Linked DNA regions of Homo sapiens. The protein of the gene in region 1 interacts with the protein of each later gene in a pairwise test. Each region holds a gene or a part of one and is shown in the gene's direction. Other genes may lie near its edges. The genes, in order: NAPB, ALOX5AP, STX16 and SYT2.

The links.
Region 2: the proteins of NAPB (region 1) and ALOX5AP interact in binary tests that used the Homo sapiens proteins (3 or more experiments, as listed by UniProt).
Region 3: the proteins of NAPB (region 1) and STX16 interact in binary tests that used the Homo sapiens proteins (3 or more experiments, as listed by UniProt).
Region 4: the proteins of NAPB (region 1) and SYT2 interact in binary tests that used the Homo sapiens proteins (3 or more experiments, as listed by UniProt).

What each region holds. Positions count from the first base shown.
Region 1 is NC_000020.11:23,376,481-23,383,506, reverse strand, and holds part of NAPB (beta-soluble NSF attachment protein), read left to right. Parts: intron 1-2,189; coding exon 2,190-2,294; intron 2,295-3,571; coding exon 3,572-3,640; intron 3,641-4,011; coding exon 4,012-4,062; intron 4,063-6,020; coding exon 6,021-6,131; 3' UTR 6,132-7,026. UniProt on the Homo sapiens protein: Required for vesicular transport between the endoplasmic reticulum and the Golgi apparatus.
Region 2 is NC_000013.11:30,752,535-30,759,560, forward strand, and holds part of ALOX5AP (arachidonate 5-lipoxygenase-activating protein), read left to right. Parts: intron 1-2,976; exon of another isoform or gene 2,977-3,065; intron 3,066-3,409; coding exon 3,410-3,491; intron 3,492-7,026. UniProt on the Homo sapiens protein: Required for leukotriene biosynthesis by ALOX5 (5-lipoxygenase). Anchors ALOX5 to the membrane. Binds arachidonic acid, and could play an essential role in the transfer of arachidonic acid to ALOX5.
Region 3 is NC_000020.11:58,661,283-58,668,308, forward strand, and holds part of STX16 (syntaxin-16), read left to right. Parts: intron 1-6,207; coding exon 6,208-6,315; intron 6,316-6,704; coding exon 6,705-6,845; intron 6,846-7,026. UniProt on the Homo sapiens protein: SNARE involved in vesicular transport from the late endosomes to the trans-Golgi network.
Region 4 is NC_000001.11:202,700,445-202,707,470, reverse strand, and holds part of SYT2 (synaptotagmin-2), read left to right. Parts: intron 1-7,026. UniProt on the Homo sapiens protein: Exhibits calcium-dependent phospholipid and inositol polyphosphate binding properties. May have a regulatory role in the membrane interactions during trafficking of synaptic vesicles at the active zone of the synapse.

The sequences.
Region 1 (7,026 bases):
GACATCAAGTGATCCACCCACCTCAGCCTCCCAAAGTGCTGGGATTACAGGCATGAGCCACAACGCCTAGTCGGCCTCCATTGTTTTTGATAAGAAGTCTGCTGTCATTCAACTTGTTTTCCCCTATAAAAAAGGTGTTATTCTCTAGACACTTTCATAATTTTTTTCTTTTAGTTTCAAAAGTTTAATTATAATGTGGCTTGGATAGATATATTTGGTTTTAAGCTATTTGAGTTTCCCTAAACTTACAGAATCTGTAGGTTTATGTTTCTTGTCAAATTTGAGAATCATTTAGCAGTTATTTCTTCAAGTACTTTTTCAGCTTCCTTTTTTTTTTTTTTTTTTTTTTTGAGACCGAGTCTTGCTCTGTCGCCCAGGCGTGCCAGTTTAATGGCGCAATCTTGTCTCACTGCAACCTTTGCCTCCCAGGTTCAAGCAATTCTCCTGTCTCAGCCTCCCAAGTAGCTGGGACTACAGGTGCTTGCCACCACACCTGGCTAATTTTTGTATTTTTAGTACAGACAAGGTTTCGCCATGTTGACCAGGCTGGTCTTGAACTCTTGACCTCAAGTGGTTCGCCTGCCTTGGCCTCCCACAGTGCTGGGATTACAGGCGTGAGCCACCATGCCCAGCCAGCCCTTTTCTCTTTCTCCTCCCCTTCTAGAACACAGATGCCACAAAAGTGAGACTGTTTTATTATCCCATGGGTCCTTGATGCTCTGTTCCTTTTTGTCAGTTTGTCTTCTCTCTGTTGTTCCTGTTGTTGTCTTCCATTTAGTGCTTCTTTCCTCTGTCCCTTTCATCCTGCTGTTGAGCCCACCCACTTTTTATGTATGGTACTGTTTTTTTTTTTCAGTTCTGAAATTTTTATTTGTTTTTACTTTATATCTTTTTTCCTGTGGCTTCCTTTTTCTTTGTGGATGCTTTCCATTTTTCCATTAGCTTCAGGTGTTATTGTACTTGCTTTTTGGAGCATTTTTATGAGGGCTTCTTTAAAATCTTCGTGGGATATTTTGGACATTTCCGTCATCTGGAACCATCATCTGTTAATGGTCTTTTTTCATTTAGCTTGAGATCTTCCTGTGTTTTTGGTATTACAAGTCATTTCTGATTGAAAACAGGGCATTTGCACATTAGGTTATGAGACTGGGTCTTGTTTAAACGTTCTCTTTTCAGTTGGCCTTCTTTGACATTCCTCTGGCTGGGGAAGGTGGGGATGTTACCTCATTACTGCCAGGTGGAGGTAGAAGTGTCAGCTTTCCACCAGGTCTCTGTTGACACCTGAGGGGCCTAGTCAGCCCTGGGCAGAAGTGGCATCCCCTCTCCTTATCTGTTTCTGCCAGCACAGTGCTGGTTTGTTCTTGGTATGGTGAGAGTCTTCACCCTCCACTAGACCTCTTCTGACAGCACACCAGCTGGAGAAAGAAGGGGAACCTCTTTCCTGCTTGACAGAGACAGGATGCAGGCTCCCAGTGTGGTCTGCACTGCCTTAGTGTCAGGGGGTTGGGTGGGGATCAAGCCTCAGCTCCCTATTTGGCCTTCTCTGAAGCTCCTAAGCAGAGGTATTGGGGTGCTTCTTACAGTCTTTCAAGAATGGACTTTAGGACTCCTTCTTCAGCCTTTGATGATGTAAATGGAGTTAGGGCCTCAGTTTTTCTGTGATATTTGGCTGGAGTAGAGCAGTTATTGTCTAAGTGTTTTCTCTCTTGCTGGGCTGCCCCTTTTCTAGTCCTTTGGCCAGAGAGAGCAGGCTTTTGTCTCTTCTCTTTTTATCTGTGCATACTGGCATTTCTGGGTTGCTGGTTCTTCAGTTTCATGCCATGGATATAGGAAGGGAAAAGAAAACTGAGGGAACCCACTACCACGTTTTCCCTTGGGAAACGTTTGTTTTTTAGAAAATGACCTGGGCTTTTAGTAGTGCTTAGTGGGAGGATTAGGGGAAAGGATGTTTACTCCATCTTATTGGAAGCAGAATTCTTCTGAGCTATTTTTAACTGGTTAAGACTTCATGTATTTAATGGTCTTGTCTAGTAAAATTTCTACTATATGGTATTCGGATAAAATAATATATTTCATAGCTAAACAAACATAAGATACATAATTATTTTCTAAAGGACAACAGATGAGAATGACTTTGCCTGATATAAGAGGGTAAATCTTTTAAATTTAACTCTGCGTTCTGTGCCTAGGTTGGGGCAAACACAATGGATAATCCTTTGTTGAAATACAGTGCAAAGGATTACTTCTTCAAAGCTGCCCTCTGCCACTTCATAGTAGACGAGTTGAATGCCAAGGTAAGGAGTTCTTCAGCATTGATTGACTGATTTCACCCATAAGAATACGTACACATTCTCTCTTGTTCTTGGTATCATTTCATTTTGATGTTAGTACCAAGAATAAACGGGTACATTAAAAATAAGTATTATTCTGTGGTATGTGTCCCAGTTGTAATCTTTTAACAGCTGTCAAAGCTGTTCTCAAAAGTTACCTGATAGTTTATAGCCATACCACCCTGAACACACCCAATCTCGTCTGATCTCAGAAGCTAAGCAGTGTAGAGCCTGGTACTTGAATGGGGGGCACTGCCTGGGAATATTTAGTGCTATAGGCTTAAATATATGTATATGTTCACTGGTAGCCACCATTTTTTTTTCAGTAGTTTTGCTTTAAAGAAATTAAGGGGGCCAGGCGTGGTGGCTCACATCTGTAAACCCAGCATTTTGGGAGGCCAAGTGGGGTGGAGCACCTGAGGTCAGGAGTTTGAGACCAGCCTGGTCAAAATGGTGAAACCCCGTTTCTACTAAAAATATAAAAAAATTAGCTGGGTGTGGTGGCGGGTGCCTGTAAGTCCAGCTACTTGAGAGGCTGAGGCAGGAGAATCACTTGAACCTGTGAGGCAGAGGTTGCAGTGAGCTGAGATCGCACCACTGCACTCCAGCCTGGGTGACAGAGTAAGAGTCCGTCTCAAAAAAAAAAAAGAAAGAAATTAAGGAACTAAGGGAGGAGACAATAAGAGTAGGATAATATCCATTTAAAAAACAACCAAAACAACAGGCAAGCTCAGAAATGGTGTTGGAGTGAGGACTGGGAAGAAGTTGAAAAGCACAGTGAGCACTGGGAGCCAAGAGGCAAAAAGACAGGCAGCCTTGGCATGGCCAGTGTCTGGAGTTGGAAGAGCAGAACTAAAGCCAGTAAGAGAAACTGTTCTTTCTGTCAGCTTCGAGCAGGAAGCTAAATGTAATTTATTTGGAATCTGGACTGTATTAAGAACGTCTCCATTTAATGGATGGATACAGATACCTGGTCTGTGAGTGTTTAAGAATTCATTTTCATTTACAATGTCTTCTCAGCAGCAGCCTAACTCAGAAAAAAGTAGTTTAGAAATTATTCTTTATTGAAATGGAAAATTCAGAATAGAAAGATTTTCTATGTTGATTCTGCTTTTGAGTTTAACTACATACTTTTTCAACACTTAATAGGATATAGGTAGATCTTATTTGAAGCTGATAGAATGTTGAAAGCTTTGTTTGTTTAGTAAGTCTGAAATTGATGAGTGGTTTTTCTCTCTCAGCTTGCTCTTGAGAAATATGAGGAAATGTTTCCAGCATTTACTGATTCAAGAGAATGTAAATTATTGAAAGTAAGTAATATTAGAACTTTGAAGAAAAATGCTTTTGTTCTGTTAGGTGACAACACCTAAGTGGGATTGGGTATGAAGTGAAGTTTTAATCTATAAAGTCTGCTAACTGAGGGGCCCTGGTACTTTCCTGCTTTCGTATTATAGGTGTTCAAATGCAATTAAGGTCAGAAACATGTAGTTGTGTTCTGAAATAGGCACCTGAGAAATGTTACTACAGAAGCTAGATCCCTAACTTGGCTCTTGACTTGTATATGAGTATTTCCTCAGTTTTGTGCAATATTTGGCAACATTGGTATTATACTTAAAGTATATATTTAGAAATGGGACTTCATCTTACAGAACTGTTTTTTAAAATATTTTTATGCTACCAGAAACTCCTAGAAGCTCATGAAGAACAGAACAGTGAAGCTTACACTGAAGCAGTAAGTTATGCTTTTGGGACATGGTACATTATTTGAAGATTTAAGTTAAAGAAACTTCTTTTCCTTTTCATTATGTGAATTCTAAACATTTATTTGAACATGACTCCAGCATACCTTAAGTTGTATTTTCCAAACGTCACCTTTTATATATCACACAAATTAAACAGTTCCATTAGCCATGCTGAGATTCGACTTACACTCAAAACTAATTTAGCTGTGAGACTAGTTCAGGAGCAAATATTCCATTTATATTCTTATAATTTGCTGTTTTAATTTTTTCTTTTGAAAATAATCTGACCCATAAATAAGTATAAAGTAAAATTAGTTAAGGCCAGGCACGGCGTCTCACACCTGTAATCCTGGCACTTTCGGAGGCCGAGGCAGGCAGATCATGAGTCAGGAAATTGAGACCATCCTCGCCAACATGGTGAAACCCCGTCTCTACTAAAAATATAAAAATTAGCCAGGCATGCTGGCACACGCCTGTAGTCCCAGCTACTCGGGAGGCTGAGGCAGGAGAATCGCTTGAACCCGGGAGGCAGAGGTTGCAGTGAGCTGAGATTGCACCACTGCACTCCAGCCTGGTGACAGAGCGAGACTCTGTCTCAAAAAAAAAAAGAAAAAAAAAATTAAATATAATTTAAAATATAAAAACTAAGTAGTGAGAATTTGCTGTATTTGTGGCATGAAATAAATGGAAGGTGGCCAGGCACGGTGGCTCACACCTATAATCCTAGCACTTTGGGAGGCCAAGGCGGGTGGATCACCTGAGATCAGGAGTTTGAGACCAGCTTGGCCAACATGGCAAAACACCATCTTTACTAAAAATACAAAAATTAGCCAGGCATGGTGGAGTGTGCCTGTAATACCAGCTACTCGGGAGGCTGAGGCAGGAGAATCTCTTGAACCCAGGAGGTGGAGGTTGCAGTGAGCCAAGATCACGCCATTGCATTCCAGCCTGGGCAACAAGAGTGAAACTCCATCTCAAAAATAAATAAATAAATAATAAATATATATATATATTAAAAATATGAGGGTTTTTTTCTTTATACTTTTTGTTTTTCCATCTTTTGCCATCTCATGTTTAGAATCAAGCAAAAAAAAATGTTTTTATATATTTTGAAACAGATCCTCACTCTGTCACTCAGGCTGGAGTGCTGTGGTGTGATCACGGCTCACTGCACCCTCAACCTCCTGGGTTCAGGTGATCCTCCCACCTGAGACTCCTAAGTACCTGGGACTACAGGTGCACACCACCACCCCCAGCTAATTTTTTTTTTTTTTTTTGCATTTTTTGTTGAGACAAGGTTTCACCATGTTGCCCAGGCTGGTCTCTTAACTCCTGGGCTTAAGCTATCCACCTGCCTTGGCCTCCCAGACTTCAAGGATTACAGGCATGAGCCACTACATCCAGCCTCAAGCAAATTTCTCAGTAGCCTCCTGTAACATGTTCATCACAGCTCAGGAGTGATAGAGGAAAGGAATGTTTTCCTGTCTGACTTTTGCCTACCACATCATTTTCATCCTATTGTAATTTTATTTTTGGGTAATGCATTGAAATGTGTTAATTCCGCTTCCATACATATTCTAACTCTGTAATTAATGTTTTCCCATGTTCAGTGAGTATTAATTTTCCATATTCCTTTCAAATTTTTATACAATATCCAGTTACTTTTGCCACAATAATTATGACTGTTAATGAATTTTTTTCTTACACGTTTGAAAACAGAGAAATGTCAAGCCCAGGAACTTGTCACTAGTATCAAAATAGTAACAGGATAATGAAAAAATAAACAATTTTTTAATGAAGAAAGTTATAAACTGGAATGATTAATTTCAAATGATGAAGAAAGTTAGTAGATTATGGCTGTAAAGGTATAAACAGCTTGGGGTACTATTATTTTGTGTTTTTAATGTATTTACATGGGGTAATTCCTGTTCCTCTTTCCTTATACTAGGTGAAGGAATTTGACTCAATATCTCGCTTGGATCAGTGGCTGACCACCATGTTGCTTCGCATCAAAAAGTCCATCCAAGGGGATGGAGAAGGAGATGGAGACCTAAAATGAAATGTTTTTGTCTTTGTGGCATGCAGCTAACTCCTCTTTAGTTTTGTCTTAGGGTCAAGTGATCTTTATGGGATGCCTATTTAATGGCTTAATTTTGTTGCATATGAGCCAGACGGCCTGTGTATTGTTTAAGCTCGCCAAGTCTGTGTTGCTGTGAAATGAATGAAGGAGAGGCTCCTGTTCATCTTGTGGTAATGATGGGTTGTTTCATGCTTATCAGAACCCCCAGCGTTTTCTGAGAAGTACTTCAGAATCTCATTCCTCATATTTCATTGGTATTTGTGGAGCCTATGTTTAATGTTGCCACGTGTTTTTATGTCCTTTTTGTTGGACTTGAGTACTCAGCCCAGTTGTTCTCATAGATGCTTTGCATTTTCTCTGTGCTTTGGCATCTGAATATGTTCTTTAAATGTGTGTTTAGTTTAGGACAGTTACTAGGAATGAGTTTATAACTTCATTAGAAATCATTTCTATTTTTGTTATCCTGTGATTATTTTGATGGTGCTAGTGACTAGTTTCTTTGCTTTTTGTGTTGTTCCGTATGCTAACATGTGCATGGCAAAAATTTAGAATAGCCAGGGTCTGTAGGCATCACATTGTGAGGAAGGGAGCTTTCTGGAAGTACTTGCTTCATGTATGGATGAGTGTCAAAGTGAATTTGATTTGTACTTAGACACACGCGTTTACACACACACACATATCACAAGATCTGTTAGAAATGGAATTTTTCTCTTTTTCTGGAGATAGTTTTCACTTTTAGTTGGAGTGGAAATCCCTTTATATTTACATTGAAGTATTTTAATTGGCATAGCCTGCTCATTATTTTCATGTTTATACACTTTCCCACGTTGAGGTGGTGTGTTCTGTGCTGTGACTATAGAAATCTTGGTCAGGG
Region 2 (7,026 bases), on another chromosome or scaffold:
GAGCCACGGGCTGGATGCCACATCCCCGGCCTTCCCACAGTTATCAGCAGCCCACAGGCTTGACTTGAGCAAGTTGGAAAGACAAATCAACTTCCAGAGTTGATTTAACATTGAGTGGAAATCAGTCATACTTTTGGTCCCCTTTCGGGGCCACGCCTGGCACTGTGCCTGGTGGCAGATCGGCATGAACTGGCCAGCTTCTGTGGCCCTGGAGGGCACAGGCAGAAAGGCCACACTCAGTCCCATGATGAACTGTTTAAGACTTATTGTTGTCTCCCCGCTCTGTAAAGTAGATAGAGTGGATTTTATGTCCCTTATTACCTTTCAGGATACTTTGACTCAGGGAGATAAAGTAACTTGGGTACAGCTACTCAGCTGGTGAAGAACACAGGCAGAATGAGTGCCTGGGTCTTTTGACTTAAAATTCTGGATTTTTCACAAAGATCCTCTTACTTTATTCATTTACATAATAAATATATATTGAAGAGCTACTCTGTGCCAAGCCCTGTGCCTAGATATACAGTGATAAATAAAGAGTAGCTTCTAGAGGTCACCTGGCGGTGAGGCACAGGCCAGCTGGCAAGATGGACCACAGAAGTCAGTGAATGAAGACAATGACAAGGGTGGGAAGCGCCATATGGGAAGAGAACCAAGTTCAGTGATAGAGAGCAGAGGTGAGGCGGCAGCAGAAACCACTTAAGGGACACCACGTGGCACTCCTTCTGTGCTGAGAAGGCTGTCAGTAAGCTCACCATTTATTTCCTATTTTCTCTCCTGAGTTAAATAGGAAACATGTCTCGCATTACTTGAAAAATCAAGTCAAACTATGCTCTTACTAGGAGTTATGGTTCTTTTTATGTCTTAGATGATGCTTGATCTAGATGAATGCGGACTTGCTGTAGCTAGATAAATACAATGGGAGTTTGAAGGTGTTTCGTAGCCCTGGAAATAGGTATTTCCTGTCAAAACAAGCTTTGTCATTGCCAGCAGACAAAAGCATCAGTAACCTTGGTTGATAATCGTCATTTCTTAGGAATAAAGTAGACTGTAGAATTTTTTTTAGCAGAAAGGAAACCCAAAGATAATTCTAGTGCAAATCCCTCACTTTATAGAGCAGAAGCTCAAGTCCCAGAGGAACAAGTGGCTTGAACGAACATCAGAATTTTAGGGGCTGGATTTGTACCCTCCTGGTGCCAGCAGCCCACTTCCCTGCAGGAGGCACTCACCTTCCTTGCACAGGGGTATGAGTGTGGCCATTTTCCACCCATAATCTCTGTTAGCTCATGTTCAATTGGGTTCCCATTGAAAGAAAAATGGACCAGTAAGTTGGAGCAGAATCATTCAGATGGTATAACATAAGGAAAAACTTTGCCCAAGGCAAATCGTGATTGTGACAGCTTTGTGATTTTTAGAGAATAGCATGGGCCAGGCACAGTGGCTCATGCCTGTAATCCCAGCACTTTGGGAGGCCGAGGCAGGCAGGTCACTTGAGGTTGGGAGTTCGACAACAGCCTGACCAACATGGAGAAACCCTGTCTCTACTAAAAATACAAAATTAGCTGGGCGTGGTGGTGCATGCCTGTAATGCCAGCTACTCGGGAGGCTGAGGCAGGAGAATCACTTAAACCTGGGAGGCGGAGGTTGCGGTGAACCAAGATAGCACCATTGCACTCCAGCCTGGGCAACAAGAGTGAAACTCCGTCTCAAAAAGAGTTCACAGTTTCTCTTTTGCTTTGATTTTCTTATCTGCCGGATAACAATAGTATTTTGGAAGGCAGGAGGAATTGTGGAAAGAAATGGGTTTTGGGGAGTGGCTGATTGGAGGCAAATCCAAGGACACTCATTGCTGGTGTGTGACTCCAGGCAGTTACTCAGCTTTTCCAAGCCTCAGTTTCCTTATTGTAAAACAGGACCATGGTCTAGCTAGTAGCATTCCTATGGTGAGTGAAATAATATGTATAAAGCTCCTGACACAGTGCTTGGCATATATCAGATTGAGCCATGTAAAACTGCCAATATCTGGCTATTTATGACCTACAAAAATAGCATTTCATATGATTCCACCTAACATCTGAAGCGCAATAAATGTTATTATTGATAATGCAGGTGGTGGTGATAAAGTTTTGAAATCAGAAAGACCTGGCTTCAAATTCCACGCCTTCACTGGCCTGACTTATTTTCATTCATTTGACAAATATTATTTTGAACACCCCTATGTGCCAGGCACTATGCCAGGCTCAGAGATGATCTAGGAAAAAGACAGATGTCCTCATCTGTCTTAGGCTCTTGTGGCCTAAGCCTAAATTTCCTCGTCTGTCAAATGGTGACAGTAACACACTCCTTACCAGAGAGCTGGGAGGATTGGAGACTCAAGTTCCCAAAACGCCAGGAGCACTGCGGCAGGTGAAAAGTATTCCCTCAATGGCGGAAGTGTTTAAATTGCTTTTATATCTGTAGCTCTAGATAACACTAGTTCCAGCTTAGTTAACTCCCAGCTCCAAGCCTTCAGGACTTCATAGAGTTATTGGGGTGCTGCTCTTGGCAGTTTCCCAAAAAGCTAGAATGCAGAGGGAATCTCCTTCCCAAAAAGCTAGAATGCAGAGGGAATCTCCTTCCCAAAAGGCTAGAACGCAGAGGGAATCTCCTTCCCAAAAGGCTAGAACGCAGAGGGAATCTCCTTCCCAAAAGGCTAGAATGCAGAGGGAATGTCCTTCTCTTCTAAATGGTAGCTGTTAGTTCAAGAAAGGTTAAACATTGTGCTGTGGGGAGGCTCAGGGGTGAAGGGTGTACTTTTAAGAGAACCAGTTTCAGAGCTGGGTTTGGGGTTTAAGCCCTACCCTCTGCCCCCTTTTACGAGCTGACAGCCTTATGCAAGCCTGGTTGACCACCTGAACCCACGTTTCCACATCTGGAAATAGAAATGTGGGTACTAGTTATGTTGAAAGGACTCAGGTTAGATGATAGATATGCAAATACCTTGGAAACCAGGAGTGTCCAGTCTTTTGGGTTCCCTGAGCCACACTGGAAGAAGAGTTGTCTTGGGCCACACATAGAATACACTAACCCTATCAATAGCTGATGAGCTAAAGAAAAAACGTTGCAAAAAAAATCTCATATTTTTAAGAAAGTTTATGAATTTGTGTTGGGCTGTATTCAAAGCCATCCTGGGCCACGTGCGACCCGCAGGCTCCGGGTTGGACAAGTTTGTTGTAAACAATGCCATGATGCCGGCATAAGGTCGTTACCAGTATTAGGAAGGTTCTCAGGTTTCCTCTAGCCCTTGGGCTCTTTTCCTGAAGTGCGTGTGTCTTCTGCTAGATTTTGTGACCAATGTTGATTGCCTAATTGGGCTAACAGCATGTTTTGGTGGCTACGAAACTGACACAGGTGTTTTCATTTCTCCACTTAGTTCCTGCTGCGTTTGCTGGACTGATGTACTTGTTTGTGAGGCAAAAGTACTTTGTCGGTTACCTAGGAGAGAGAACGCAGAGGTAGGTAACTGGGACTACTAAAGAACTGTGGAGCGATTCCTGATTTTTGAGCAGGAAGAGTGACAATTCAAAACAGTATTTGACTAGATTCACGGCTCCGTAGCATCCCCTTGGGTGGGAGGGGGAAGGCTGACTAGGACCTCTGATTCTTCTTTCCCTGAGCTTTGAAGGCTCTGAAAATACAGCTGGGGGGACTTGCCCAGTTTTCTTATTAAGCAATTCCTCCGCATGGTGCTGGCTTTCAAAGGGTGCTTCAGTGCTGTTTGCTGCACGTGCCTTGCAGCCCCACACCCTGCACTCCCGCCCTGCAGAGTCTGGCGCTGGAATGACATTTTAGGTCTGGGTTCCCAGGCCTCCTGAGAGTGAAATGTTTCATTGTTTGTCTAGAGAAATGAGAACTAAAGCTTGCACCTTGTGATAAGTTGTCCTGAGGAACATATCTTTCAGGGACCAGAAGAAAGAATGTTGGGAAAATAAGATGCAGTAAGATGCAGACATGACAGCAGGGTGCAGCGGCTCACGCCTATAATCCCAGCACTTTGGGAGGCTGAGGTGGGTGGATCACCTGAGGTCAGGAGTTTGAGACCAGCCTGGCCAACATGGTGAAACCCCGTCTCTACTAAAAAATATACAAAACATTAGCCAGGCATGGTGGTGGGCGCCTGTAATCCCAGCTACTCCATAGGCTGAGGCTGGAGAATCGCTTGAACCCAGGAGGCAGAGGTTGCAGTGAGCCGAGATTGCGCCACTGCACTCCAGCCTGGGCAACAAAAGCAAAACTCCATCTCAAAAAAAAAAAAAAAAAAAAAAAAAAAGATGCAGACACGAGACTGTGAAACTGACTAGCATCACCATTGCATTGTTTATAGATGTTGCCAGACAGAAAGCCCCAAAGCAGCACAGTACCTTCCTGACATCTGGACTAGGAAATCTAGATTTTAGTAAAATACATGCTAATACTTACAGAAGAAATGTCGGCGTTAGAGTATGCCGTCAGTTCCTTAGAGATTGCAATTCCTAATGCACTAGTATGGTTTCAGGTGCCAGGAACACGTTCTGTGAGGCTGCTGCCCCAGGTGCTGACCCCAGCCTTCCACACCATTTTCCTTCCTTGTGTTCACAGCCGCTCTGTCTTTTACAATAGCACCCCTCTCTAGTGGCTAATGGGCTCTATGATTAGATAGCATCCTTCAGTAGTGATAAAGGCAGTGACATCCTAGGGAGGTCAGCGGGTGAAAGCGCTATATCTGGAAAACCTGAGAGCCTGTGAAGCTCAAGGACTTGACGGGGTTAGACCGTGAGCCGGGCTGCAGCTGGAAAAAGAATGACTGTTCTTTCAGCAGATCCTTCCCTGTGCCATCTCTTTCTTCATTCCTCTCTAGTGGCATTCTTATTTATCCTCTAAAACCACAATTCCATTATCTCTCCTATTCTTATCAACACTGCCCTAAATGATATTCTTTATTCTCTTTTGCCCTGGAAAACCTCTATCATGCCTTTTCCCATGTGATTACCTCGTTAAGAGTGGGGGTGGAATGTCTAGCAATGAAATAAGAGGGTCTTCTCTTTTGCCTGGCTCCCTATGCAGCCCTATCTTACCCCCTGCAAAGTCCCAGGGATGTGGCTCAGTCACTGCTCCTCTCTTCATCTGTCACCACTTGCTTGAGATCCTACAGCTGCTTTAATTCCGAGACCATCTGCAGAACATGACAAAATTTGTCCACCTACCCACATGTCCTTTTAACTTTAAAGGCTTTACTAACTGATTCCTATTAGGGAATGAACAGAGGTGGCAAAAATAAACAATAGGAGATTGATTTACAAGAAATCTTTAAAATAGTAGATTTCTTCGGACCTCATTGAAATATAAATGGCCTGCCTTCTTGTGTCCCTCCCTGGTCTCCCTCTTTAGGTGATAAGAAGAAGATCCTGCCAGCCCCATAACCCGCCATCTGCGCGGGTTCTAGACCCCCTTCTCCTCCCCTCTGGCCGTGGTAGGCATTACTGATGAATCATGGTGCTCTTTCTTCCAGAGACCAAACCTGGCCTCGGAATCCTTCTTAACACAGATACTGCTTAACACAACCACTCTGAGCAGCTGTCATAAGTAGAAGTAATAGATACTAGAAGAAATGTCTAAGCCTAATCTAGACCAAAATACGGCCTGATATAGATGCAAGCCAGAGGGGCTTTATGGTTAAATGCAAGGAGATTTTCAACCCTGCCGTCTAGAAGCTACTTGCTGAGATCTTCTTCAGTTGGGCCCATCTCCTCCCCAGGCCTCTCTTCTGTTCCTGGGCTATGTCACACTTGGACTCTGCAGACACCTAATGCTCTTGGGACCTGCTTTAGTTCTTGACCTCACCAACCGAGGAGGAATTGCTAGATGAGATCCTTCCCCCGGAATTTCTCTCTTGAACCCCAGATGGTCCGTTGCCCCTTTCCAGAAGTTGCTCCAGCCCTGTCCGCTTAGGAAGTTCAGTGTCATCCTTGATCCAGTGGGTAGGGAAGACATTCCATAATGAATGCCCCAGTCTGAGCTTCTTCCTTCAGGCTTCAGGCTGCCCTGCGAGGATTTTGCAGCTCCCTTTTTAATGCCCTCTAGAAGTTTCTGGCTCTTATTTTCAGCCCTTCATCCTACTCTCTCTGACCCCTTCCTCTATCCTGTTTAGTTCACCTGTAGCAGTTACTACCCAGCAGTGAAGGATGAATCTTGGTTTCGTTTCTTTTCTCTTCTTTTCTTTTTTCTCTTCTCTTTTCCCCTTCCCTTCCCTTCCCTCCCTTCACATCACCTCATCTCACCTCACCTTACATAGTCTTGCTCTGTCACCCAAACTGGAGTGCAGTGGCCTGATCTTGGCTCACTGCAACCTCCACCTCTTCCCAGGTTCAAGTGATTCTTATACCTCAGCCTCTTGAGTAGCTGAGACTACAGGTGTGCACTACCACACCCAGCTAATTTTTTGTATTTTTAGTAGAGATAGGGTTTAGCTATGTTGGCCAGGCTGGTCTCGAACTGCTGAACTCAAGCAATCTGCCATCCCCGGCCTCCCAAAGTACTGGGAGTATAGGCATAAGCCACCCATGATGCCCAGCCTGAATCTTGGTTTCTTCCCCATTCATTTAAGCTATTACCTGGGCCTGAACTCAATGGCACCTGGCACCAACTGGCAACTGACTCTTGGTCTTTTATTACCTACCTTCCCTAGCAGGCACTGGGTTGCTCCCTCTTCCTATCCCATGGAGTCCTGTCCTCTGTTGGGGCTCCTACTGATCCTCTTGGCAATATGAAGTTCTCAGCTCAATGGTGGGTGGGCAATGACTGCCAACTCTTGAGGCCAATGAACTCAGGTTACCCCACTCCTCCTCCTCCTGAGTTGCTCACTCACTCCTCATTCACTCAACATTGATTCAGTAGATATTTGCTACCTGCTCTGTGCCAGGTACCAGGTCAGTTGCTGAAGGAGTAACAGTGAACATGACGGAGTCTTTGTCCCCAAGGAGACCCAAGGTGTCTCCTAGAGCCAGGGGCACA
Region 3 (7,026 bases), about 35 Mb from region 1:
TGAACCGATTTCCAGTCTTTCCTACTTCCTTTTTCAGGCAGCAAGTTCCAGAAACTGGCTACTCACTGCATGAACTTGGCAGGCCCTTTTGCTTTTCTTATGTTTCACCTCTAAGGGCTTAAAAGGGAGTCTTCACGCTCTGTGATCAGAGGCCCTGCGTAGAGAGCACTATCTCCTCCACGCTCACCCCAGTGCTATTAGAAATGCAGGTTGCTGCCTCATCGTGGGTGCCCACGGCCACCTCATTTCCTTGTGCGTTTCACTTGCCTCTTTTGCTCTTTTGTGCAGTGCCGTTATCTTTTTCATGAAGTGTGGCTTCCACAATTGTCTGTGACGTACATTTTATTTACCTCGTGCATTCATTCCACTCGTTTCTTGTCGGATCACTCAGCTGGTTGTGATTGTGCGTTCAGGACTCTGAAGTGCCAGGTACTGGCCTAGGAGCAGGGGGTGTGGTTGGGGACAGTGTCCAGAGGCTTCTTTGAAGCTGACGCAGGGCCTCACATTGGCATCTCTGGAAATAGTGAACACCCAGCTCCAGAGTGGATTAGATGTTAGCCACCCCTTTATAGGGGAGGCCTGAGCAAATGTCCCTGAGTGAATATCACTTGCATCTCCCAGAGTAAAGGCATCTGACGGCCTCACTTCAGAGGCTTCCTGCAGTCTGTCCATGTTTGATTGTCATTCTCCTCCTCTAGCCTGAGTACCCTGGAGATGTCACTTTTCCTTCTCAGAAAACACTAAGTAAGGTGTTCCCTGAGGAGGACCCGAGCCCACCATTGGTTCTCTTACCCAGGGAAGTGTCTGGCCCTCTCCTTTGTTCTCTGTCTTTAATCTACTTCCTGTCTTATGACAAAGAAATCTCTGGGAGTTTTTAAACTCAAGAATTATTTTAAAAGTCACAAGATAACAAATGTCAAGCCCCCAAACCACACTGCCTGGAGGACTGCACATCTGGGAGTGCCTGGGCCGGGCCCCAGTGTCCATGTTGGTGAAATAGGGAGCGGCGCTCCTCTGAAGGATTGTTCTTGGGACTGGCATGGGCCAGGTCAGTAGCAGTGCTCAGTACAGTGCTCACAGAAGGCAGGGAGGGACGGATTGCTCCCCTCCTTTTTCTTCCCCTCAGAGTATGTATGTTAGTTGAGAAAAAAGGAAAATCAGTGAAACTTAACAACAGTATCAGGGTGATGTGATTCTCAAGTGTTTTTATCTCTATATTTTTTGTATCATTTATTTTTATTTTTTTGAGACAGAGTCTCACTCTGTTGCCCAGGCTAGAGTGCAGTGGCGCGATCTCGGCTCACTGCAACCTCTGCCTCCCCAGTTCAAGCGATTCTCCTGCCTCAGCCTCCTGAGTAGCTGGGACTACAGGTGCGTGCCACCATGCGTGGCTATTTTATTTATTTATTTATTTTTGTATTTTTTAGTAGAGACGGAGTTTTGACATGTTGCTCAGGCTGGTCTCGAACTCCTGAGCTCAAGTGATCCGCCTGCCTTGGCCTCCCAAGTGCTAGGATTACAGGCGTGAGCCACTGCGTCATCCTATGCCATTTTAAAAGTATTTATTTTGACCATTTACTAATTTCATAATTAGAAAAGGTAAGCATTATTTTAAAATTATTACGGGTTTAGAAAAATGTAGTGCTGACATCACTTTTTTCTTTTATCCACATGCTTATTCACTTCTCCAACAACTCGGATTTCTTAAGCCTAATTGTCTATTAGCGAAGTAGTCTGACTTCATCATACAGGCTCCCAGAGTTTCACGTGGAAGTGTGAGTTGCCAGTCTGTTGATTTTCAGTGTCCCTTCTGGGCTTTCCAAGTGTTCATTGCCATAGACAGTCCAGAATTATCGGTATTGTTCTCATTACCAATGCGTTACGGCTAAACTTAGTTGATTTTTTTAGATGGGGAGGAGGTGTAGCTGACTTTTCCAATCTCCACAGAGGCTTTGCTATTTCTGTAATCTTAGTCTACACTAAATCAGCCTTCAGGGAAAGGCAGGGTTTTTAAGAGTAGGAGGGCCATAGATTTGGAACAGCAAGATTTATAAGAGAGAATGTGTATGTTCTTTCCATAGATGGAGAACTTGTCCATACTGGCTGGTACTCTTTAAATGGACAAATGTCAACATTTGAAGTGGATCAAAGGCAAAAGATACCTTTAGTGAGACTGGCAGGAAAGCCATTGGGTGTGCTGTTTTGAACATCTGTTGGATTTTTTCTGCATTTCTCTCAGGAAGGATGGCTCTAGGTTAGGGTAGCGGACCCCAGTAGTTCTTGGAGAGAGGAACTACATATCAAAGAGGCAAGAATTCTTAATTCTCTTAAGTACAATTTTTATTTAAAAAATATGGATTTTTTTTTTTTTACTTCAGAAGCACAAATTTATTTATTTATTTATGTATTGAGATGGAGTCTCGCTCTGTCTTAATAAAAGGCTGGAGCACATTGGCACGATCTTGGCTCACTGCAACTTCTGCCTTCCGGGTTCAAGTGATTCTCCTGCCTCAGCTTCCCGAGTAGCTGGGATTACAGGTGCATGCCACCATGCCCGGCTAATTTTTGTATTTTCAGTAGAGACGGGGTTTCACCGTGCTGGCTAGGCTGGTCTTGAACTCCCGACCTCAGGCAATCCGCCTGCCTCAGCCTCCCAAAGTGCTGGGATTACCGGCGTGAGCCACCATGGCCAGCTGCACAAACCAACATCATATATTTGGAGGGGGCACCATGTTGAAATTCAGTAAGGGTAAGGAGAGAGAATTAGAAACCTGGCCATTTTTTAAGATCTGTATGAAATAGGATGGCAGCTTGAAAATTGATACATATGCTGGATCTTCAACAATAAGAAGACATGTTTTTAAATGGAAAGTGAGGTTTCTGAAATTAAAAGGGTGCTTATGTTGCACATAAAATTTGTTTATGTCCATATTTGTTCCCATTTCAAATAGTTGACGCTTATCTTCAACAATTGTTTTCCCTTCCCAAAACATACTGTCTTGTTTTTTAATAGTACATACTGTGATACACATTACAAATCCATACTGCTAAAAGAAATGACACATTTCTTCTCAATAGGGTGGTGTTTCTTTATTATAATGAACTATAGCTATAGACTGTATCATAAAAGAGACAAATTATTCGCTATTTAAAGTTTTCATTCCCAAAGAATCAGCTGTTCTATCTTACTGGCAAAACTCTGATACAATGTGTGGGAAAGCTAGTACCAGCTGAGCAGGCTGGCATCCATGCTGTTCATGTAGGAATCTCTAATTAGCAAGCTTCCTTAGGACCCTTAACAAAGAGTGTGTTCTCCCCACTTTTGATTTACATCTAATTTGAGGGGAACACATGCATAAAATCAAGTACTGCTTCAAAGAGTTGTATTCACTTCAACCGACTTTTCATATGTGGTTTATAATTTGTTGTTTTGGATAAAATGATACTAATCCCAATGCAGGTAAATTTAGATAGATACCATCTCTCTGTCTTCTTTAGTTTAATGTGTATTTGTAAACAGTAAAAACAGTACAAAATAAGATCATGAGCTTAAAAACTCTAAAATCACTATAAATAATTACTGATTGAAATGTGTAATAATAAAATATAGTGGATTCGATAATAAACTGGTGTAGTGGAAATTCTAGGACCCATGAAGAGGTCCTTTAGCAATTTTAGATTTTACTTTGTATAAACAGCTGGAGTTCAAGTTCTGTTCCAGTCCAGCAATACTGTAGACAGCACCTGATGTATGGCTGGCAGGTGCTGCGAGCTGGGCCTGTGGTTTGTCCCCCTGCTTTTTAGTCAGTGTGTCCTCCACAGAGTTGTGTACCTCTTGGTGACTTTGGAGCAGGAGTGTTGAGGAATAAACAAGTCTGCCTCTGAGTGCTTGGCACAGGCCCTCTCTGTGCCTGCTCTGTAGAGGGTGAGGTCTGCGCCTCTCTGTCCACGGATGGTCAGTAAGAGAGGATGATCTTTACTGACACTAACGTCACTCACTGGCGGCCTGTCCTATAGTGCCTGGTGTAGTTGGTGGGAAATGAATCAAACTACTGTGTTTTGTTGTTTTAATCTGATGGCTTGTCTTGATTCATTTTCTTAGCAAATTGCAGTTATAGTTTATGGGCCTGTGGAGTGATTGGCACCTTTGAGGGTGGAAGGGGTTTCTGGAGTCAGCCGACCCAGGTTTCAGTCTGTCACATAATGGCTCTGTGACCTTGGGCAAGCGACTTAACTTTTCTGAGTTTCAATTTCCATATTTATAGGTTAGAATAATAGTTTCTAACTCACCTAGTTTTTATGAGGATTAAAATAATGTCAAGAATGTAAAATTCCTATTGATGAACTCTTGAAACCAAACAGAAGGTAGTGGTGGTGGAGAATTACCACTTCACGGCCCGGGAGCCCCAGACAGTGCGGGTTTGGATGACACACCATTTGTTTAAGAAATGACACTGGCCCTGCAGCATCCGTGCCACGCTTGAGCACCGTTGGGCTTAATCACGGCTCCTGGACGTGCTGGGATTAGTGAATGGGGCCTAGTCCTTCCAGCGTGGTCATTGCCTAAGATGCGTTCCCTGAGTGGACACGTGCCCCAGAGCACACAGAAAGCCTGAAGCAGATGGTGGCAGAACCACTCCAGGGCATGCAGGGAGGTTGATGGTGAAGATACCAATTTGCTTTTAAGAATTTTACTGTGAACTCTTTAGGATTTAGGGCCTATTACTTGAAGTGGTCTTTTATTCTAAGTTTTTCTTTATATGATATTTTTCCCCCTTCATCTGTGGATTTTAAAATTTTGTCTTGTTCCTTTATTATTAGAAAAGCAAATAAGTATTTAATGAATGAAAAAATAAATTTAGTTAAATGCAAGGAAGAGGGAAGAAAAGCAATATGAATTTTTCACCCAACTCTACAGTGTGATTTAGAAAATTTCCAAAGTATTATCTATAAAGGGCTTTTATAGATTATTTTCCATTATATTTTGATCATCATTTGGATCTTTTGAAACTGGCATTTAAAAATTCTGAGCTCTGGAGGGCACCTCAAAATCTTTTCAACCCATTCACTGCCTGCAGGCAAGAAAACAGCTTAACCGTGCCAAACCCATGATTTCCCTCTGTTTTTTGTGTGTGTGTGTGTTTTTTTTTTTTTTTTTTTTTTGAGACAGAGTTTCGCTCTTGTTGCCCTGGCTGGAGTGCAATGGTACGATCATGGCTCACTGCGACCTTCGCCTCTTGGGTTCAAGGGATTCTCCTGCCTCAGCCTCCCGAGTAGCTGGGATTACAGGCATAAGCCACCATGCCCAGTTAATTTTTGTATTTTTAGTAGAGAACGGTTTTCACCATTTTGGCCAGGCTACTCTCGAACTCCTGACCTCAGATGATCTGCCCGCCTTGGCCTCCCAAAGTTCTGGGATTACAGGCGTGAGCCACCGCGCCCAGCCGATTTCCCTCCCATTCTTAAAAGCTTTCTACCGCAGTGTGTTATATAGTTAAAATAAACAGGAACCATCGATACCATTTCAAAATAAGGGGAAATGTTCCCTGTGGACATTTAACTGAAGAAAAGAAATGACAGTGTAAGATTGCATTGAGATCTTAAGGATTGCTTTTGCCAAATGGTAGATAATTTGCTAGCGGTTTTAGGCAGTTGTTTCACACATCTTAACACATGGTTAATGATTGTGTGACTGAGATAACTGGATCAGCCCTATTTCCAAAATAAGCTAAGTGTATTTAAGTAAACCTTGCTACTATTGAGCATTTTGTAGTTGTTTCATTTACTGCCTAGTTTTTTTTTTCACTTGCAACTGATCACAAGAATCATTGAGGTTCATGCCGTTCTATCACAGTACTAGTAGTAAGAGGTCTTTATTTTAAGGATCTTTTGTTGACTTTTTCATTACATTTCTATAGCCAGATCAAGTCAAATTTACGTTCTGAAGTATGTCCAAGGAAATTAAGAGCTGGTGCATGAAAAGATAGGAAAACAATCCAAATCCTAGCAGTTATCAAAAGCAAGTTTATAATACAGGCAAGTGCATTCACTCCTTTCTATATATTTTCAGGGAGCAACATTTAAGAGAGAGTAAACATTCACTCCTTTCTGTATCTTTTCAGGGAGTAACATTTAAGAGAGAGTAAGAGTATTTGTATCTAAATTGGATTAGAATAATTTTTTTCATGTCCCTTTACTTTCCTGTAGCTTGCTGATGACCGTATGGCACTGGTGTCAGGCATCAGCTTAGATCCAGAAGCAGCGATTGGTGTGACAAAACGGCCACCTCCTAAGTGGGTGGATGGAGTGGATGAAGTAAGTTCCATGTTAGTTTCATAGCATCTTGTTTTTTTAAGTAATTATGACAATGTATTTTAAGATATCTGTCATATAAACGAATTTGGCTACACTTGAATGTATATTTCTAGAAATACTTTAGCTTTAGGTTAAGTTGTCTATGTGTGTGTTAATGATTTTAGCTGTAGTTTTAACATTGGTAGTAACTACCTGAATTATAGGAAGAAATTGAAACCCCATGCAACAAGGAAGAATGTGATTTTCTGGTAATTTGAATTAAAAGCTGCTCACACATCAGCAAGCCAACAAGTTTGCTGAAGACCGAATTCTGTATGCTGAGTGTAGCTGATGGAGGCAGACCATAGCCTGCCTGGCATCAGTGGAGTTCTGTGACTTCATTTGCTTAGATTCAGTATGATGTTGGCCGGATTAAGCAGAAGATGAAAGAATTGGCCAGCCTTCATGACAAGCATTTAAACAGACCCACCCTGGATGACAGCAGCGAAGAGGAACATGCCATTGAGATAACTACCCAAGAGATCACTCAGGTGAGGAGTGCAAGTGAGTCCTGGGGAAACCAGCGAGCCTTCTCATGGCAATCTCAGAAACTAGAGTGTTACTCAGAATCAGTCTCCTGGAGTCATTTCCCAACCTGAAGTTCTCAGAGGGACCTCAAGAGGCCCTGAAGTCCTCCAGCTGTCAGCGTAGGTACCTGTGAGGCCTTGGAGG
Region 4 (7,026 bases), on another chromosome or scaffold:
CAGAGTATCCCCACCACTGAAGGTCCAGGGTGGTGGGGATACTCTTTAAGAACTGGAACAGCAAGTCAGAGGGAGTAATGGGGGGGCAGGGTCACTCAGTGCAGTGGTTAAATATGAAGCACCAAAGAATGGAGGCTAGGAGATAGACAGGCCTGGGTTCAAATCCCAGGGCTGCTAAGTACAAAGTCTGACATTTGCAACAAGTATTTTATTAGTGAGTACCTACCATGTGCCACTATTGTAGTCTCTCTGGGTGGGGAGGTGAGCACAGCCGCAGGCCCTACACATGTTACTGAGCCACTCAGCATCCCTTCTGCATTCGTTCCACTATTGCATTTTGAGAATCTGTGCTAGGCAATGGAGATTCAGGTGGGAACAAAACAGACCTGTTTCCTGCCCTCGTGGCATTTACAATCTAGTGAATACCACACAATTAGATAATTACATAAAGAATTCATCATGACTGTGCCAAGAGTTATGAAGGTATGTAGGAAGCTTCGAGAGCATGTAACAGGATGATCTGACAATGTCTGCACAGTTTTCTCTAAAGAACAGAGGTAATAATGCTTAACTCTCAGGGTAGTATTGTAGAACTGATAACTATTCGTGTTATTTTAGAAGTAGCCCCTGGACCACCAGACAGATGCAGTTCTAAATTCCCTACGTGAATAATCCATCCATAGGCAACAAGTTGATTCTTCATCTTCCACTCAGTCAGAGAAGCCAGGCCAGAGAAGCTGGGATTCAGTTATGGCTTCTCCTGGACTCCAGAAGCCTGTGATAAATAATATAGTTTCATTGGAGAAACATCAAGTCAGAGATTTTTTTCTAAGTGGCAGTATAGTGACTACAGCCAGATTGCCAGGGTTCATCCTGGTTCTGCCACTTGCTGTGATTTTGGGCGAGTCAATCACACTCTGTTTTTTAGTCTTGCCATCTGTAGAATGGAGCTAAAATTTGTAACTATGACGTAGATTGTTCTTGGTGAGGATGAAATGGGTTAATTCCTGTAAAGCGTGTAGAACAGTGCCTGGCGCGGGAGGAGTAAGTGCTTTTCATCCTTGGGTGGCCTGCGTGCTCCTTTTCCTGCCCACACACACAACACTGTCTTGGGTTCTCCAGCTGCAGGGAGCACTGTCCACCTTTGATATTCTTAAAACTCAAGGGAAGGAGTTGCCCTCACCGTCTTGGTGGTCAGTCCTGCATTTCATCCCCCTCACTCGAAGACGGTTTTTATGCCTAATGAGTCTTTTCTTGCCAAAGCTTGATTTCTGGGAAGGATTTGTCCCAGCAATCCTTCATTTTCATCTCTGGAACTGACAGTTCAAGGAAGTAGCCAGAGTGATGGGTAAATTTGGATCCAGGCCCAGAGGGACCTGAGAGTCACTGTGAGCCTGGAGGGCAGGGGAACACCTAGCTGCCAGCCCCCTCCCCTAGAGAGGCTGGGTCTAAAATTAAACATCCAGAAGGACTCCCCAGGCCAGGTGCAGTGGCTCACACCTGTAATCCCAGCGCTTTGGGAGGCTGAGGTAGAAGGATCGCTTGAGCCCAGGAATTCCAGAGCAGGCTGGGCAACATATGGAGACCCTGTCTCTACAAAAAATTTAAAAATTAGCTGGGCATGGTGGCACACCAGGTTAAGCAGGAGGATCGCCTGAGCCCAGGAGGTCGAGACTGCAGTGAGCTATGGTCATGCCACTTCACTTCAGCCTGGAAAACAGTGAGATCCGGTCTCAAAAAAAAAAAAAGGACTCCCAAAATCCAAGATGAGCAGTAGATATTGTAGAAGCTTCCTCCCTGGATCATTTTCTGATGAGGATAAAGTCCCTGCTGGCTGAGTGCCAGGGAGGAGGTTAGATTCTGAAAGCCCCTCACACTTAGGGAAGTAGGATGTGAGTAGCAGGGTCCATTAAAATGGCCAAGCAGCCTCCAAATCTGAAAGAAAGGGGGGTTACCTGCTGCTGTAAAGTCAGGAGAGGCCCTTCCTTGGTCACTTTAGCCGGGGACCTCAGGATTTCAGCTTTTGCTGTCAGTAACACTAAGCATCAGGCATAAGAAAGGGCAAAGTCAGTGTGGGTCCCGCACAACAGGGAACCTCAGGGCTCCTCCCTGCGCCTCCTGCTCCCCTGCTCGGGGATAGAGCGGCTCACAAGGGCGGTCAAGCTCTCATCACTGCAGTCCTCGGCTACGCCATCGCTGTCCCCACTTTACAATGAACGGGCAAAGGCCCAGAGAAGTTGTGTGGTTCAAAATCCCCAGAGAAGTTGTGTGGTTGTTCAAAATCCCCAGATCATAGGCACTTTGCAGGGGGCCTTCCAGGCCACAGCAGCTGAGTGGTCAGAACCCTTCCTCCTCTCCTCGCCGCTTCTCACCAGCTCTACCTATGGCAAATGGAGCCCGAGAATACAGGTGCGGGTCCTTGGGATGAGGCCACTAACGCGTTGAGTAGAAGCAGGAGGCTGGGTGATTTAAATCAGGCAGCAGCCTTTACAAAAATTAGGCAGTGATTCCTTGGAGGAATTGAATCAGCTCTCCCTCCCTGATGTTGGGTTTCCTTGGGCTCTCCATAAGGGCTCTGGCACCTCCTTCAGGAACACCTGCTCTGAAGCAAGGAGGGAGGCCCCAGGGTGGGCAGTCTTGAGTGCATGATGGGACACCCCGCTGAATCCAGAGCTGCTCCAGCCTCAGCAGCCCTATCTGTGATGGCATGCTGATGTCATCAGCACCAAAAGCCCTTGCAGGTTTCAACTCGGCAATTAAACGGCTCCTCTGAAGCCCAGCAGCCGTGTGTGTGTGCATATGTGTGTATTCAGGGTCCTAGGGGTGGGCTGGGGAGGAGGGCCCCTTGCAAAGGCAGGGAGAATGGGAGTTAGTGGGTGTGTGACTGCTTCTCTCCTTCGGAGACTCCAGACCTGAGAAGTCAGATCCCTATGGGACTCACAGCCCAAAAGTCAACCCTTGCGTGCAGGTGTAGCCAGAGTCTAAACTCAGCCTGAGCCAGAGCACCCCATTCCTTCCTTACTTCCTACTTTCCTCCCGCCTTTTCCTCCACGTTCCACTCCAATGCACTAAGCACCTACTCTGTAAAAGGCACCTGGGATGTAAAGGAGAACTCAAAATAACCGTGTCTCCTCTATCAGCCTGGGCGCTCCCCAAGGCCAGGGCATGTTGTTTCTCCTCCTCTCCTGGGTCCCCCTAGCCCCCAAAGTGGAGTTCTGAAGCTGGGAGCATTGATGGTGGCTGGTGCAGAGTGACAGGGCTCCCAGATGCTCTCCAACCCCAGGATAGTCGCCTGTCAACACAAGGCTTTCCTCAATCACAAAGCTTGCTTCACTTCCTCCCATCCCCTGCAGAGAAACTAGAAGCCCAAGGGCCTCATCACTGGACAGTCTGGGACCAGGGGAGGACAGCAGCTGGGTGGGGAGTCAGGAAAGCTCCCCCGAGGCATTTGTCAGGTGCCTCTCAGTAAGGCAGGGAGTCCTCAGACCATGGAGAACTCTGGCAGGACTTGCCATAATTGGGTTGATACAGTGGCTCTGGAATTTAGTAATTAGGAAATATTGCAATTAGAGACGGAATTTACCCATTACTATTCCATGCATCTTAATACAGGGTGTAAGTGGTTGTAACTGTGAGCTTGGCACTAGGCATATGGGAAAATAGAAGTGAATGGAGAAATGGGATGAAGGAAGGAGGGGATGGGAGGAGCTTAACCCTTTCCATACCCGAGTAGACTGAAGGAGCAGCCTGGGGGTGATGCAGGGTTAGGGCGAGCCCAGCAGCCCACCGCATTTGTAAGAGGTGACCGAGGCAAAAATCACAGGCTCCCTCCGGACCTTCTGCTTCTTTAGCTCAGGTAGGATCAGATGCAGGGCTTGGCAGGGGTTAGGAGAGTGGTGATGGAGGCCAAGAGGGAGAGGCTGCAGGGGAGAAGGGCTCTTCTCCCAGTTTCCTGCTCAGCTGTGGAGAAACAGAAAAGAGTTGTAACCACCTGCAGTAGTGTGCATGTGAGAGACAGGAGAGGGTACCTTGTACCTTCATCTCTCCCTCCCCACTTGTTCCTTCCCCCGCCCTTCTTTTTACTCCCTTCCTCACTCCTACTCTTAGCTCCATTTTCCTCTGAAGTCAAATGAGGCATTTGTGGTATTGCAGGGCTGAGCTGGGTAGGGCCATGTGTATGGGCGGCGGAGGGAGGGGAGCGGTGGCCGGGGGTGGGAGGGTGGTAGCGTCAAAGAGGTGGTGCTCATTTTTTCCTTTCCAGACCAGAAATGCCTTCCCCAAGGTCAGCCAGTGCTCTGAGCTCCAAAGACCTTCCCAGAGAACCTCTGCTCCCTAAGGGCTGGGTGGTTTGAGAGAAATCTCTTTTCCTCACCATTGATTCCAGTCTGAACTAATGATCCAGATGTGTTGTGCATGTCCTTCCTCTTCTACAAAGTGACTCGGGAAGCAGTTTTTATGCTATTTGTAGAAAGGAAGCATTTTCTGGAGCGGGGCCTTCTCTGCTTCTGCTACACCTTAACTCCCTAGATTAGAGGAGAGCTGTGAGGCCGCAAGGAGGGGGGCCTGGAGAGGGGCTTGGGCTGAGGGTGGTAGAGGTCTCTGAGGACTGTCCTTGTCTTCTGCCTCCTGTGTTTATTTGGAGAAAAGCCCATTTAACAAATGTACAGGTCTTTACCTCTATCCCTCTTGGGGCTGTCTGCCATGTATCTTTCATTGTACCAACTCAGATGGACCAAGTGACGGCCCGGTCATAGGGCCTAAGATGGGATGTTAGGAGACGGGGTGGAGGCCTGCAAGCAGGAGGAGAGGGGACCACCCAGGCAACCCTCTAGAAGTGCAGGAAGGATGAACAAGAACCTATTGGTTAAGTGCTCTTGGGTCTTGGAGGGAAGCAGACCTAGGACTGAAATCCATCCTCACCACTAGGAGCTAAGAAGAGTTACAGGTAAACCCCAGGAAACTCAAGGGTGGCTGTGGCTAGGATCAGTGTTAGCGGGAAGCATGGAGTTAATTGGCTGTGGGAGGGCTCCCTCTCCCAGTTTGACTCTCCCACGAGTAGGAAAAGGCATCACTTTAATAAGGCTGCCCTGTTTCCAAATCAATCCTGGCATTGCAGGAGGCGAAGGGGGAAGCACAGCTGAGAAATTGGATTAGCTCTTTGATGCTGGGAACTGTGCTGGTTGCTGCTGCTGCAGCTGCAGGAGGCAGGGAAGCATCAAGAACTGAGCCTGCCATTGGCAAGCCAGCCCCAGACGTCTGAGGCTTCCCAGGGAGGCGTGCTCCACCCCCATTAGGTCTCCTACTGGTAGAGGGTGGCAGGGGTGCCCTGGGGCAGACAGTAATAGAAGCCCAGGTCCTCACCACTGCAAACCTGGAGGTGTCTTCGTGCCTCCCCTGGAGTAGATCGTGAGCCCCAAAGACCTCAGGAGGTGAGGCAATGGGGAAGGGGCAGAGGAGAGGCCCCCACAGCATGTTCTGTAGGGCATAACTGAAGCAGCGTGTGTGTGGCTGGGAGTCAGATGGCCTAGGTCAAACCAAGACTGCCACTTCCTGCCTGTGTGACCCTGGGCAAGTTACTTAAACTTTCTGAACTTCGGGGTCCTCATCTGAAAATGGAGACAGTAACACACAGGGAACAGGCCCTTGTGAAGTTTACCTTATAGCAGTAATCAAGATGGGGGCCACGGGTCCCTGGGAGTCCCTAAGAATTTTCAGGGGGGTCCATAAGGTCAAAGCAGTTTCCATGATGGCAATAAAGTTATTTGCCATTCCCATGCTTGACATTGATGGTGCTAAAGCAGTGGTGGGTGAAGCTGCTGGCACCTTACCATGAATCAAGGTAATAGTATCACACTGCACCCGTCTTTGTGTTCTTCCACACTACACACCCGCTAAGCAAAGTAATTGGTAAATAATGAAATGCCATTTTCAGTTAAGAATGTCTTCTTTTCATGAAGCAGCAAAGATTATAATTATATTGAAGCTTGATTCTGGAGTGCACATCTTTTTAATATTCTCTGTGATGGAATGAGAAGTACACATAAAGCACTTCTGCTTCTTACAGAAATATTACACAATAATTTCTCAAGCAACTGAACAGTGCCCATCACCTGTGCATCTGTTTGAGTTGCAGGCTGAACTAGCCATTTTTCCATGGGATACCATTTTATCTGAAAGAACAACCAACAAACTCCAGTTATTCAGACTTGGGTGTTGAGCAGGCATTTTTGCAAAAATGAACGAAGTGAGCTCGTCACTTCCAGAAAAACAACTGGCAGTATTTGTGGCCAATGATAAAATTTAAGCTTTCAAGCAAAAATTAGAATTTTGGAAAACTCACACATATTACTATGAAAAGGACTTTTGTGATAAGATCAGTGGGAATAGTAATAGATGTGATTTGTTAATATTGTTTAATGAAATTCATCAATATTTGAAAGATCTTCACAATTCGGCAAGCCAATATCTTCGAAATGATAAATGAATGATGTCACAAAATCATGCACAGAGGCAAACAAGCATTCCAAGTGCAAGGTTTCAGATTCCCCACTGCAGCCAGTCTTTAAGAAGCTACCACTTGGGGAGCAGTGATGTCATATCAAAGAAAAATATCCACAATGATCTGAAAAGGCTTTATTAAATACCCCTCCCCTTTCCAGTTACATATCTGAGTGAGGTTGGATTTTCTTTCATCTTTCAATCAAAGTAATGTATTGCAGACAGACCGAACACCGAAGTTGATATAAAACTCTAGCTACCTTCTAGTAAACCACACATTAAAGAGATTTGCAATGATGTGAAACAAGGCCTCCTTCTTACTAGATATTTTACTAGAGAAAACGTCTACTATATATTTTTTTGGTCTTGGAAAATATAGTTACTTATTAAATATGTTGTATTAACAGGTAATGAGTTACTATTGTATTTTGAGCTAATTTAGAAATTTCTCAGTTTTAATTTTGAATATGGTAACTATGGATGGATCTAACTTACATAAGAAAACGCTCTTGGAGGGTCCTCAATAAA